Homo sapiens: one gene and its partners. The protein of the gene in region 3 interacts with the protein of the main gene of each other region in a biochemical or structural test. Each region holds a gene or a part of one and is shown on either strand. Other genes may lie near its edges.

Evidence for each region.
Region 1: the proteins of UBE2E2 (region 3) and CUL3 form a complex in vitro, tested with the Homo sapiens proteins (one study listed by BioGRID).
Region 2: the proteins of UBE2E2 (region 3) and PDLIM2 form a complex in vitro, tested with the Homo sapiens proteins (one study listed by BioGRID).
Region 4: of the proteins of UBE2E2 (region 3) and UBA6, one has a biochemical effect on the other in vitro, tested with the Homo sapiens proteins (one study listed by BioGRID).

The regions. Positions count from the first base shown.
Region 1 is NC_000002.12:224,505,364-224,508,863, forward strand, and holds part of CUL3 (cullin-3), read right to left. Parts: intron 1,641-3,500; coding exon 1,495-1,640; intron 770-1,494; coding exon 593-769; intron 1-592. UniProt on the Homo sapiens protein: Core component of multiple cullin-RING-based BCR (BTB-CUL3-RBX1) E3 ubiquitin-protein ligase complexes which mediate the ubiquitination and subsequent proteasomal degradation of target proteins.
Region 2 is NC_000008.11:22,592,637-22,594,798, forward strand, and holds the end of PDLIM2 (PDZ and LIM domain protein 2), read left to right. Parts: intron 1-1,096; coding exon 1,097-1,274; 3' UTR 1,275-1,662; downstream 1,663-2,162. UniProt on the Homo sapiens protein: Probable adapter protein located at the actin cytoskeleton that promotes cell attachment. Necessary for the migratory capacity of epithelial cells. Overexpression enhances cell adhesion to collagen and fibronectin and suppresses anchorage independent growth.
Region 3 is NC_000003.12:23,206,327-23,209,826, reverse strand, and holds part of UBE2E2 (ubiquitin-conjugating enzyme E2 E2), read right to left. Parts: intron 1,136-3,500; 5' UTR 1,128-1,135; coding exon 952-1,127; intron 1-951.
Region 4 is NC_000004.12:67,628,156-67,631,655, reverse strand, and holds part of UBA6 (ubiquitin-like modifier-activating enzyme 6), read left to right. Parts: intron 1-1,120; coding exon 1,121-1,190; intron 1,191-2,513; coding exon 2,514-2,585; intron 2,586-3,500. UniProt on the Homo sapiens protein: Activates ubiquitin by first adenylating its C-terminal glycine residue with ATP, and thereafter linking this residue to the side chain of a cysteine residue in E1, yielding a ubiquitin-E1 thioester and free AMP.

The sequences.
Region 1 (3,500 bases), on a different chromosome or scaffold from region 3:
CAACCTCAGGTGGTCTGCCCACCTCGGCCTCCCAAAGTGCTGAGATTACAGGCATGAGCCACCATACCTGGACAGTTGTTCAGTTTTTTTGAGACAAGGTCTTGCTCTGTCGCCCAGCATAGAGTGCAGTCACGCGATCACAGCTCACTGCAGCCTTGAACTCCTGAGCTCAAGTGATCCTCTGCCTCAGCTTCTGGGACAACAGGTGTATACCACTGTGTGCCACTAATTTTTTTCTTTTTTCTTTTTTTTTGTAGAGATGGAGTCTCACTAAGTTAACAAGGCTAATTTCAAACTCCTGGCCTCAAGAGAGCCTCCTGTCTTGGCCTCCCCAAATGCTGGGATTATAGGCATGAGCCACCAAGCCCATCCAGTTGCTTGTTTTTGAAGCCAATTACACATTAAGTGAAATGTCTAACTACGTTTGGGCATGTCAAGTATTTCAAACAATATTTTTTAATAGACCATGGCACCCATTTAAGCACAGCAATGGGTCATGCTTAATTTTTATCTGTGAAATGTCCTAATTTTACATATAATTTTATATCTTTAAATAAAATTAAATGTTATTTTCAAATGCATTACTACTTACCCCTTTGACTCCCTTTTTCAGCTTATCATCAATAAATAATGAGAGGTATTCAGGAGACCTGGAGTTGAGGTTGAGAAAATACTCAAAGTCACCCGCAATAGTTTGTTTAAAGAGACGGTCATTGTTGAATGATTCCAGGAGGAAGCGATCGAACCTACTCTTCAGATCCAATAAGCCCTTAGAAATAAAAACAAAATTTAGGACACATTATAATAATTTTTCCATAAATAATACACTTATGACCATGTATGTTTATCTTAACTTTGCTGGTAATAAACATGTATATTCATTTTTAAACTTACAGTTTTGATATTATTTTCAAGCCTATATCTAAGCCTCTATTAAAAATGTCAATGAGAGAAGTATTATAACTTCCATATATGTATTAATACAATGCAAACGAACCAAAGAACCTCCTCACTGTTTCTCATTCTCCTGTCTTGATGGAATGGGTTAGCCAGTGAAAAAAATTAGCTTAAAAAATGTACCAAAAAAAGCTGATTATGTTAAAACACAAAACATGGCACATAATTTATTCATAGTACTCCTTGAAAACAAAACATTTTCAAACAAAAAATACTTAAACCAGTTGTTTTTTCCAATATACTACAGTATACAAACACTAAGGCATACCAAAGAACCTCACATTCACTATTGAGGCTATTTAAACAAGGTCTTCATCAAAGAAGTTAAATGAAAAGTAGCAGCTGAATTTTAGCTCCCTGATATAAATACGCACACCTTGCAAAATCCTAAAATATGTAGGATAATTACAAATATTAATTTACTACTGGGACAATTAAGTTGAAAGTACACAATACACAGCATGGTAAAAGTGGCCTTTTTAGCACTTGTCAAAATGCCTTTATCATAAACACAGAGAATCTTCTGGGTTTACTTACCTGGATATAGTCAACAGGATTCTTTCCTTCTCCTTCTTCAGAAACAAGAGCTTTACCTTGCTCCCTCAAATAGGAACTCATACACTCACACATTGTTTTCAAACCATTTGGCACACGACTAAATAACTTGTACATGCAACCAAGGTCTACAAATCAGAAAACACAAATTGGCTACATTAAAGATTAAAGAAAAAAACACGAATCTCTGTTCACGCTATAATACTGAGAGAAGCTTATTTCTCCATTACCCCCATTTGCTGACCACATGACTATTAAAAATATACATATATTGATATGAAAACATGAAGAAGTAGGCTAGTTAATGGTTATTATTGTAATTTATAAAACACAACTTTTAGATGAGATGCTTTGAAACCATCAATTAAATGTCCTAGCAAATTTAAATTTACATGGAAGAGATGTCAAAAACCATAATAAACAAGTAATGTCACAAAAACATGGCAACTGCAGTTTTGAGTTCATAAATACTTTATCCTACATAACTCTAATGCAGACCTAATGACACTACAAAACGTCTACAAAAAGGGTCACTAATTAAGAGGTAATTGGTAGTCCCTGTAATGAGGAAGAAATTTTAAAGCCAGTTTAAGTCTTATGGGTATTTCCAAAGGTTTAACTGATAATCATGAAAACAAATCAAATGAACTATACTAGGATTTACTTCATTACACCTCAGGTAAAGTTTTTATGAAATGTATAATATAAATACCACTTCTTCAATATTTTCCTGAGAGCAATCCCTAATGTTTCCCAGGTAGCATCCTAAGCCAATATCTGTACTTCAAAATTTGGTCTATCTCACTATACTTTTTAAATTTAGAATGAAAACTCTGGATCCTATCCATTTTTTAATATCATTTTTCACAAGACTAAAATACAGATTTTAAAATACAGTTTTCCCATATGTCTAGTGTTTCTTTGCAATAACAACTTACTGGGAGAACACAGTGTCAGAACTTTACAATGATAATTTTAAAAGTTTTACAATCAATAACTTTTTAAAATGGCATTAAGAGTTTCTAGATCAGAGGCTGACCAATGTTTTTTCTGTAAAGTATCAGATAATAAATATTTTAAAATGTGAGCCATAGAGCTCTGACTCAACTACTCTGACGCTGTAGCAAGAAAGTAGCCACAGATAATACATAAATTATTCAGTGTGACTATGTTTCAAATAAAACTTCATGGACCCTGAAAATTTATATAAATTTTCATGTGTAAATACTCTTGATTTTTTTTTTTTTTTTAACAAAACTGGTAGTGCACCAGGCAGGCCCTAATTTGCCTACCTTGGTCTACAGTTCTAAGAGTAGTTTAGAGCTTAAAGTTGTATACATTTTTAAAATATTTCAAAGCAAGATTTACAAAGTTTTACTAAACTTTATTTCAGTGACTTTCAGCAGCAAATTTTAGTTAGTTTCCATTAATAATATATGCCCATAGTAACCTACACATGGCAATTTTATAGCTTCTCACATACTTAGCATAAATTACAACCAAGTTTCCCATATTTAGAACAGGTATTACAAATGCAACAATCTATGGACACATACTACAGTAAATGTGGCACACCAAATACTTCTAACAAAATGGTTCACAACTTGTCTATTTCAATCCTATGTTGTTGTAAGTTTTGCTTAGATATTACATGTTGTGTATTTAGTTGTACATAAATTACTACAATTTCATTGTATTTAAATGTTGGGGTAAAGGGAATGTAAAAGTAAATGAAAATAATTTGGCATGCAAAAATTAAATATCATTATTTCTACATACACTTAATAAAATAATAAGATACTGGCGAGACACGGTGGCTCACGCCTGTAATCCCAACACTTTGGGAGGCTGAGACGGGCGGATCACAAGGTCAGGATATCGAGACCACCCTGGCTAACACGGTGAAACCCCCCTGTCTTTAATAAAAATACAAAAAATTAGCCGGGCGTGGTGGCGGGAGCCTGCAGTCCCAGCTACTCATGAGGCTG
Region 2 (2,162 bases), on a different chromosome or scaffold from region 3:
GGTGTGTGTGTCGGGTCCCTTGGAGGGTTTGTTAAATGCCGATGGCTGGGCCCCACCCCAGAGCCTCCTCTCCAGGAGGCCAACAGGCCTGAGAATGTGCATTTCTCACGAATTCCCCAGTGATGCGGATGCTGCTGGCTGTGGGACCCAGGACCACACTGAGAATCACTGCTCTGTTAAAAATCCAGGCAATGTGGGACGGACTTACAGTCTTTATGTGAGAGGAACAACTTTTAAAAAAAATTTTTAATATTTTTAATAGAGTTTCACTCTGTTGCTCAGGCAGGAGCGCAGTAGTGCCGTCATGGCTCACTGCAGCCCCAAACTCCTGGGCTCAAGTGATCCTCCCATCTCAGCCTCCTGAGTAGCTGGGACTACAGGCGTGTGCCACCATACCTGGCTAATTTTTAAATTTTTTGTAGAGATGGGGTCTTGCTATGTTGCCCAGTTTGGTTTCAAACTCCTGGCCTTAAGTGATCTGTCCACCTGGGATCCTAGGCATGGATTACAGGCGTGAGCTACTGTGCCTGGCTGACTTATTTATTTTTATTATTTTTAATTAGGGGTCCCAGCAGTGGCAGCGGTGGTGGGGGTTTGTGTGTGTTAGGGGGTTTGTCAAAGTGAGATTCCTGTGTGCAGCTTCAAGAATCAAGTCTCGGGCCGGGTGCAGTGGCTCACGCCTGTAATCCCAGCACTCTGGGAAGCCAAGGAGGGTGGATTACCTGAGGTTGGGAGGGCAAGACCGTCCTGGCTAACACGGTAAAACCCGTCTCTACTAAAAATACAAAAACTTAGCCAGGTGTGGTCGCACATGCTTGTAATCCCAGCTACTCAGGAGGCTGGTGCAGGAGTATCGCTTGAACCCGGAAGGTAGAGATTGCTGTGAGCTGAGATCACACCATTGTATTCCAGCCTGGGCAACAAGAGCAAAACTCCATCTCAAAAAAAAAAAAAAAAAAAAAAAAAAGTCTAGTCTCTGAGAAGGCTTTGGGCTCCACCCAGGTCCTGATGCTACAGTGGGGACCAGGCCCCCTGGGCATGGTGGCCTCCTGCTTGGTGCTGTGGCTCTGAGCTAAAGCCTCTCCCTCCCCTTCAGGAACCAGGCTGTGCGCATCCAGGAGGGCCGGTACCGCCACCCCGGCTGCTACACCTGTGCCGACTGTGGGCTGAACCTGAAGATGCGCGGGCACTTCTGGGTGGGTGACGAGCTGTACTGTGAGAAGCATGCCCGCCAGCGCTACTCCGCACCTGCCACCCTCAGCTCTCGGGCCTGAGCCCGCCATGCCCTCAGCCTGCCTCACTGCTGGGCCAGGGTCATGCCTATATAAGTTGGCATGGCAGGGACAATGGTGGGCAGTTGCTCTTACATGAGCTAAGTTTGGAGACCTGAGGCCCCTTTGTCCTCGCTGGGTGGGCCAAGGTCTGGGACCTGTCTTGGACTGTGGGAGACTCACCCTCACCTTGCCAGGCCTCTCCCCTGCAGGACTGGCATTGCACTAGTCTGAGGTGGCCACTGCCTTTGATCAACCTTTGTGTGCGAGGGTCTAAGTAGGGTCGAACACAGAAGTGGGAAGGAGAGGGGTGGGCCAGGGGCTAATGGTGTCACTGTGTAAAGTTTTTGACATACTAGCTCTATAAATATATGAATATGGACAAAATAAAGTAGATGTCCCTTCCTTCTTTTTCCTACCGCCAGCCCTGGGTATGACCTGCTCCCACCACTGGGTGGAGGGTCTTTATTTATGCAACATACGTTTCTTCTTCTTTTCCCTCCCTCAAATCCCACCCCTGCCAGTTGCCTGCACCTGACATTTCCCATGGAAGGGCCTTGCCTCTTTTAGGTTGGGAGTCATGTCATTCCTTAACCTTTTTGTAAAGATGCCCGTTTTACAGGAGGACGCTTGTGCTATGGAGGGAATGAGATTGTCACTGGAAGCTTTGGAGGGGATGGTGGAGGGCGCCAAGCGGAGGGACAGGAGGAAGACCAGGAGACCCATCCAGCCAAGCTGGTGAGACAACCTCTGATCCTGAGGACCGGCCGCCCACCAAGGGTTGGGCCCCCGGGGCCAGGTTGATCTACCGACACCTTCCACTTCTTTCCTGGGAGAGACTGCTGGCTTCATTGGTGATTGATTTGGAGGGGGGAAAAAGGGCAGGGTGGC
Region 3 (3,500 bases):
ACATCTCTCACCAAGGGTCCTGAGAAGGTTCTTTCCAACCCTGTAGACTGACTAAGCCAAAGGAAAACAAGGTCTACTAGAACAAAATAATGGTTTTTTATCTTTGAGAAAGGAGTTCCCCTTAACCCACACCATAAAATAACATATAAAGCTGTAATACAACATTCAGGCATTCCACTATGCCTACAAGTTACAGATCGCTTTTATGTATACTTCCGACTTGGTCAATGTAAAATATATGAAAACAAAGCAAGAACATAAAATCACAGGATCAGGAAAGACACTACATTTAATTTATCTTTCAAATTATTTTCCAAGAGATATTCTATAATGTAACAATATCAAACAGATTCCCTTTAAGTCCAGTGACATGCCAATCATTTTAAGAGATTGAGTACCAACAGAAAATCATTCAAATACCTACTTTCCAGATCCATCTATTCTCTAGAGAAAGAGAAAATCCGTATCAAGATGGATCCACTGACTAATGTAATGAAACCAAGATGCACCTGTTGCTAATGTCAGCATTTCTGACTTTACCAACTGGGAGTAGTGGAAAATAAACTGTCACTCACTCAGTAACTACTTCAAAGATTCCTAATCTCTATTCTGTGTTACTGAACAGAAAAAAAATATTTATGGTCAAGTAACCATAAATGAAACTACTGCAATTTTACATACACACCCTGTATATGTTTCCCTGATAATACATAAACACACAAACACACTATGGAAATGTATGTTATGAATTTGCCTTGCCATTTAACTGACTTTAAATACTGAAGTTCCCTATGGTTAAAACCATGTAAACGAGATCATCTTGAAGGGAAAAGAAAAATCCATGAAGTTCACGGCCGACATCCCAGAAAAAATGATTAAATGCAAGAGAAAAATAGAACTTAAGATGATAAATTGATACCAACAATAAAAAGGTTATAATAACTGAAGTACCTTTTAGCACTAGTTGACAATTTAGCAGCGGTTTTGCTGGATATTTTTCCCTCCTTTTTCTTGGGCTGAACTTGTTCTCTTTCTGGTTCTTGCTGAACACTTTCACGTTGATCTCCATCGGAACTTCCTCCACTAGTGCTTGGACTGTCATCAACTCTTTGTGCCTCAGTGGACATTTTAGATCCTGGATTAAAGAATCAAAAATCATTTATTTAGCTGTACTACAGTAAGCTACCTCCAGAACACAGAGAATGAGCCTCAAAGTAAAACAAGTAAATCTCAATATAAAATGGATTAAATTGGTCATTTACAAAACAATGCAGCTTTGGGAGTTGCTAAAACTTTTCCTTCATCCATTCAAAATGTATTCTAAAATGAAAACATACAAAATTTATACATGAAATGTTCATAGCAACATTATTCATAATAATCAAAACTGGAAACAACTCAAATATCCACTAACAAATGAATGGATGAACAAAATATAGTAGTATATTCACATAATGTACTGTTAGCCATAAAAAAGAATGAAGTACTGTGTCTACATGCTACAAAATGGATGAACCTTGAAACATTCTGGTAAGTGAAAGAAGCCAGCCACAAAGGACCACAAACTGTTTGACTATTTATATGAAATGTCCTGAACAGGCAAATCCATAAACATAAAATTCAGTAGTGAACCTCACGCCTGTAATCCCCAATGTTTTGGGAAGCTCAGGGAGCACCAGCCTGGGCAACGTAGTGGGACTCGATCTCTACAAAAAATAAAAATATGATTGATACCACTGCATTCCAGCCTGAGTGACAGAGCAAGACCCTGTCTCAAAAAAAAAATTAATAAAAAAATAAAATGGGTAAGTGGTTGCCAGGGAGTGAGGGGAGAGTAGTGAAGAGTGACGGCTAATGGGTATGATGCTTCCCTGTGCGGTGATAAAAATGTTCTTAAATTAGATAATTATAATCTTGCACAATTCTAATAATAAATATTCTAAGAACTACAGAGTTGTACATTTTTAAAGGGTAAATTTTATAGTATGTGAATTATATATCAATAATGCTGTTACAGAAAATAAGACAAAAATGATTAAGGGTCTACTCTCTACCAGGCGCTGTGCTAAGCCCTTTGGTCCCACAACTGTGAAAAACCTCGACTAGCCAACTTGCTAAGTACAAAAACGAAGGTTAGTACAAATACTTGTGGGAACACAAAAATGGGACGACACTTTCAAATCCCTATTCAATCAATACATCCTCAGGGCTGGGCTAAGGTTAAAATTCTCCAAACTAGTAAGTGGTTTTAAGTAACCTTTGTGATAACAGAAGAACACAGAGGCCTGCATGACTGCATGATTCTAAATAAAAATTGAACCATATGACAGCATTCAGCTATATACTAAAGCAACCATATTTCACAAGAGATGAAGACACTGAAGATTTTTTTTTTTTTCCCCACATTCTGGCTAAAATATCCCTCAAGGCTTTCAAATTCCCTTTGCTCTGAGTTCAGGCCCCCCAAGCAGTTCTGATTACCAACTCAATTTCCTCAATACCTTGATATTTAGGTAGCTGTTATAATCTAGACAGCAGACACAAACAATTCCAGTAAGTGAAAAGGAGTATCTCTCCTCAACTGTCATTCTATCATAATCAATTTCTGAGTTTGATGACTATGAATACATCCCTTATGAGCTGACTAGCTTAAAGTGTTCTGACAAATCCAGAACTGAACCAACAAAACTCATGCCCAGACTCTAAAAGGCCTTGTGCTCCCCATGGTTTTGTCACCTAATAATCACTTTCAGCACTGTATAGCTATCTTCTCAGACACCTTTTTAAAAACAAAATACCTATACTTAATAAGTACCATTAACAGCAAAAAATATATCTTTAAAAATTATAGGTACACTGAACAAATTCCTTTTGAAATGGATCCTTTTGATTACTCTTAATCAAATTACAACTTGAAATAAAACTGTTTCTGATATGATCAAGAATAAGAACAGGTAAAGATACCTCAAATAAAGCAAAATTTTTTAATTACTATAACTTAGTCCAAATGGATAGCTATTTGACACTGATGAAAATTCATCATCACTAAAGATTTAACTTGTAGCTTGCTCTAAGCCAAAGCAATGTTGTAACACCGATCTTTAATGGACTGAAATTTTTGTAAGACAAACCAAAAAGCACTGCAAAAGAATGGAAGCATCAGGAAGCACAGAGCCACAAAGAGTCAACAGAAAATAGTGAATCCTTTCACTGACACACCACACACACCACCACCAGCACCCCTTCAACCCCAACAGCTCCCCATGCCAAACAGAAACAGATCTGCCCCAACAGCTCTGAAACATACTAACGGAAAAGCTGACTACTTTTCTACCTATTCTGTAAATGAAGAGCACCAGTCTCCACAGCTGTGACATCTTTTATGAGCACTAAAGTCACTTAATAGAACACTGAAATTTTATATCAGTATGTTTCACATCTAGCTCTAAAAGTCGTAACATATTTCTTGCTTTTTTTCATTTTTATTTCACTCTAAATTC
Region 4 (3,500 bases), on a different chromosome or scaffold from region 3:
TAAATTCCTTAACTGTACATTGCAGAGTGAAAACCTTAGGCTCTTTAATGTTAAATTATTTCATCCCTGTTCATTTAAGAGTTAACAAGTCATTCTGACCAAGAAAGCCAGCCACAACCCTTCCCACACAAATGTGAATCCATTCATTTACATGGTAAATAACCTCATTATTTATAATAAATATCTAAGGTGAAACCAAAATCACCTTTTTTACTTTATCCATAAATTAGTAAAATGACAATGTGTTTTTACATTTAATGAAATCAAATATAAGAATCTTCAGTTATATGGAGGAACAAATAATTACTACTGAATAACTCCCTAAATCTCAAATTATTTTCAGAGGAGTTGGTCTTTGTGTGAATACCTGGAAACACTATATTAGATACACATTAGATTCACACTTGTGTGTATATGTATATTTTTTCTATTTTTTTAATTTAGTTTTTATTCTTTGAAAGAGACAAGGTCTCACATATGTGGCCCAGCCTGGTCTTGAACTCCTAGGCTCAAGCAATCCTCGCACCTCAGCTTCCCAAGTAGCTGGGATTACAGGTGCATACCACCACACCCAACCTTATGTATATATATTTTTAAACACTTAGCTTGCATTCACTAACCTTCCTTTCAGCAGATAACTCTATGCTTAATTTTCTCATCTGGTGGTGGTTTTAGGCTTCCAGTCACCTTATGCTGGACTGCTTCTTCTATAAGACTTTCTTTTTTTGTTTTTAAATAAACACATTTACTTAGTTTGAACTTGATATATACTCATTAAGACCAAATGTATAATATTTCTTATGACTTAAAATGAATTATTGTTCACTGGTCTGAGTTTTCTGGTTCTGTCCACTCACTCCTCTTCCCAAGGTAGTCATGATCACTACCTGAATGTTAAGTGTTTTTGAGAATAACTGTTTGATGTTTTGTCTTTTATAACTTCTGTAGTGTTTTGGTGTAGACCAGAATATTTTTGTCTAACTTAAAAAAAAAAACTTGAAATAATAATTCTGTGGTTATATTTCTTCAAACTACATTTAAAGGCTATAGTTCATAATGAGTTAAATATCGTCTTTAAAACTGTACATTCAAATTTTGCTTTATTTTTTAATTTCAAAAGGCACCTCAGTTTCCTTCAGAATGCTGCAAAACTATATGCTACAGTATATTGTATTCCATTTGCAGAAGAGGTAAGATATTCTTTAAGCCTTAGCAAGTGATGCAAAACCAAATTAGAATTAGATGACTGATGCACTAATTGCATCAAAACATGTTTGTTTGTTATAAGAATCACTCTTTTTGATACAGAATTTTTATTGTATTTTTACCCATACTAACATAATGGAAGCTAAAAGCTCATTGCAGTATTGCTAAGTAGAAGTCGGATTTTTCCTTCTGAATTGAAGCAGTGAAACAGCATTATTTGTTAAAAGCAGTTAAACTTTGTTTTAAGAATATTTATAACCTGCTTAGCAGCTTCAGTTATCCTAGTTATTCTAAAAAGCCACAGCAAACCATTTCATCGCAATTTTGAAATACTGCGTAGAGATTTTCTTTGTTAACATTTGTTTGTTATTTTGTGATAATTTATGTGCTTTTCAGGAAATCTGAAAATGCTCCCTTATATTGACATTTCTTACTTTAGCATCATACTCATTCTCTTAAACATCATCTTCATTGACTAACATCTAAAGAGCCTCATACGGTTTTGAGAGGCATCTCTTTTCTTCACAAATGCATATTCTAGCTAAGTAAATTGCTGTACTTTTAGGTGGGCTAAATAGAGAAACATGAATCAGATCCCATAATTAACACTGGCTGTTTTGGATTCAGATAACAATATCTGTTTTAGATTAATCCTTTTTGGAATTCATACAAATAAACTGTAAATATTTGGTAAAAATAGTGGCATTCAGTCTGATATTCTTTTTGGGAAAATCAGTGGTAATTTAGTGGTGAGTGTGGTAATTGACCTCAAAAGCACTAAGTCTCAGCCTTTGCCAAGCAACTTCTCAATGACAAATGTAAATACAACCCATAGCTTTAAATTCATATAAGTTCATCTTTAACCATTTAAATATCTCCCTCCTTCTTAAGGTATGAATTCCATTTACTTATTTTACTTATTGAGTATAACTTACTTCAGGGAACTTTGTAAAACATTAAAAACATAAAACATAAAGCTAAGGGAATTAAAACTGACTGATCAAGTCACTCAGTTTTATATTTACAACCAGTCCTAAAAATGCCTTTTAAAAAATTTGCAGAAGGACTAAAATTTCAAGTTTGTTGACTAATAAGTACTTTTTTACCCCTTACCTTCTCCTCCCCCATAACCTTTATGGGGGGATATTTTTATAGAAATAAAGATAAATGTCTCAAATGGATGTCTACATATTCAGATAATGAAATATTCATATATTGTAATATGATTAAGGACCTTTTGTAGGATATTTTTAGCTTTAGAATTTAGAAGAATATGTTTGTTGGTAAAATTACTTTTTTAAAAACAGGACTTATCAGCAGATGCCCTCTTGAATATTCTTTCAGAAGTAAAGATTCAGGAATTCAAGCCTTCCAATAAGGTATGTTTAAAAAATCATTCATTCAGCAAATAGTTTGGGAATTTGGACTTGTACCAAGTCCCATTCTAAACCTGGAGAATATCACAATGAATGGTTCTTGCTCTTGCTCTTGTCAGTGCAACTTGAGTTTGAAGTAGATTTGTCAGAATCACAAACTGTTGATTAATACTAATTTTATTCTAGTGTGGAATTTTAAAAAAGATCAGTATAGACTTAGATTGTATGAGCTACTCAGTTAATATTTTTTTATGCCCACTATATCATTGTGGGTATTAAAAATTAGATATATTGGAGTTCTGTCAGTGAACAAGATACATAAAGATCCCCTGTTGTTATAGAGCTTACATGCCTTTGTGAGAAGATAGATAATAAAATACATACATGAATAACATAATAATACCTTCTGAAGGAATGTATAAAATACATTGGACCAATGTATTTTGGGCGGAGAGGGACTATAAACAAAAATGCTAATAAGTACATAATATTGCAGTGTGAGTGTAAGTGCTAAGAAGGAAAAATACAACAGGGAAAAGAAAGAGTGATGGAGCTGGTATAATTTTATATGGGATGGAAGTGAGGAAAACCTCTGATAACAGTAACATTTTAGCAGAAACCTGAAGGAAGTAAAGGAATAGTGAAAGAGCAATGTAGGCAGCAGAAATAAGTGCAGAGAAAGGCCTTGAAAAGCTTTTAAGGTCAGGACTCGTCTAGAAGAGAATATACAAGGGGAAGAGTCTTAAATGAGGAAATTACAGAGATAGTTGGGGCTATGATAAAGAAAGAATATTTTCTTAGTTGAAATAAGAAGCTAGCTTAGTAGCTCAGAGTGAAGGGGATAAGAAGATAAAGGAAGTAAGAGCAAAGAAAAGAAGGTATGAAATAATTGTCCAGTGAAGTGGAAGAGTCACTTAA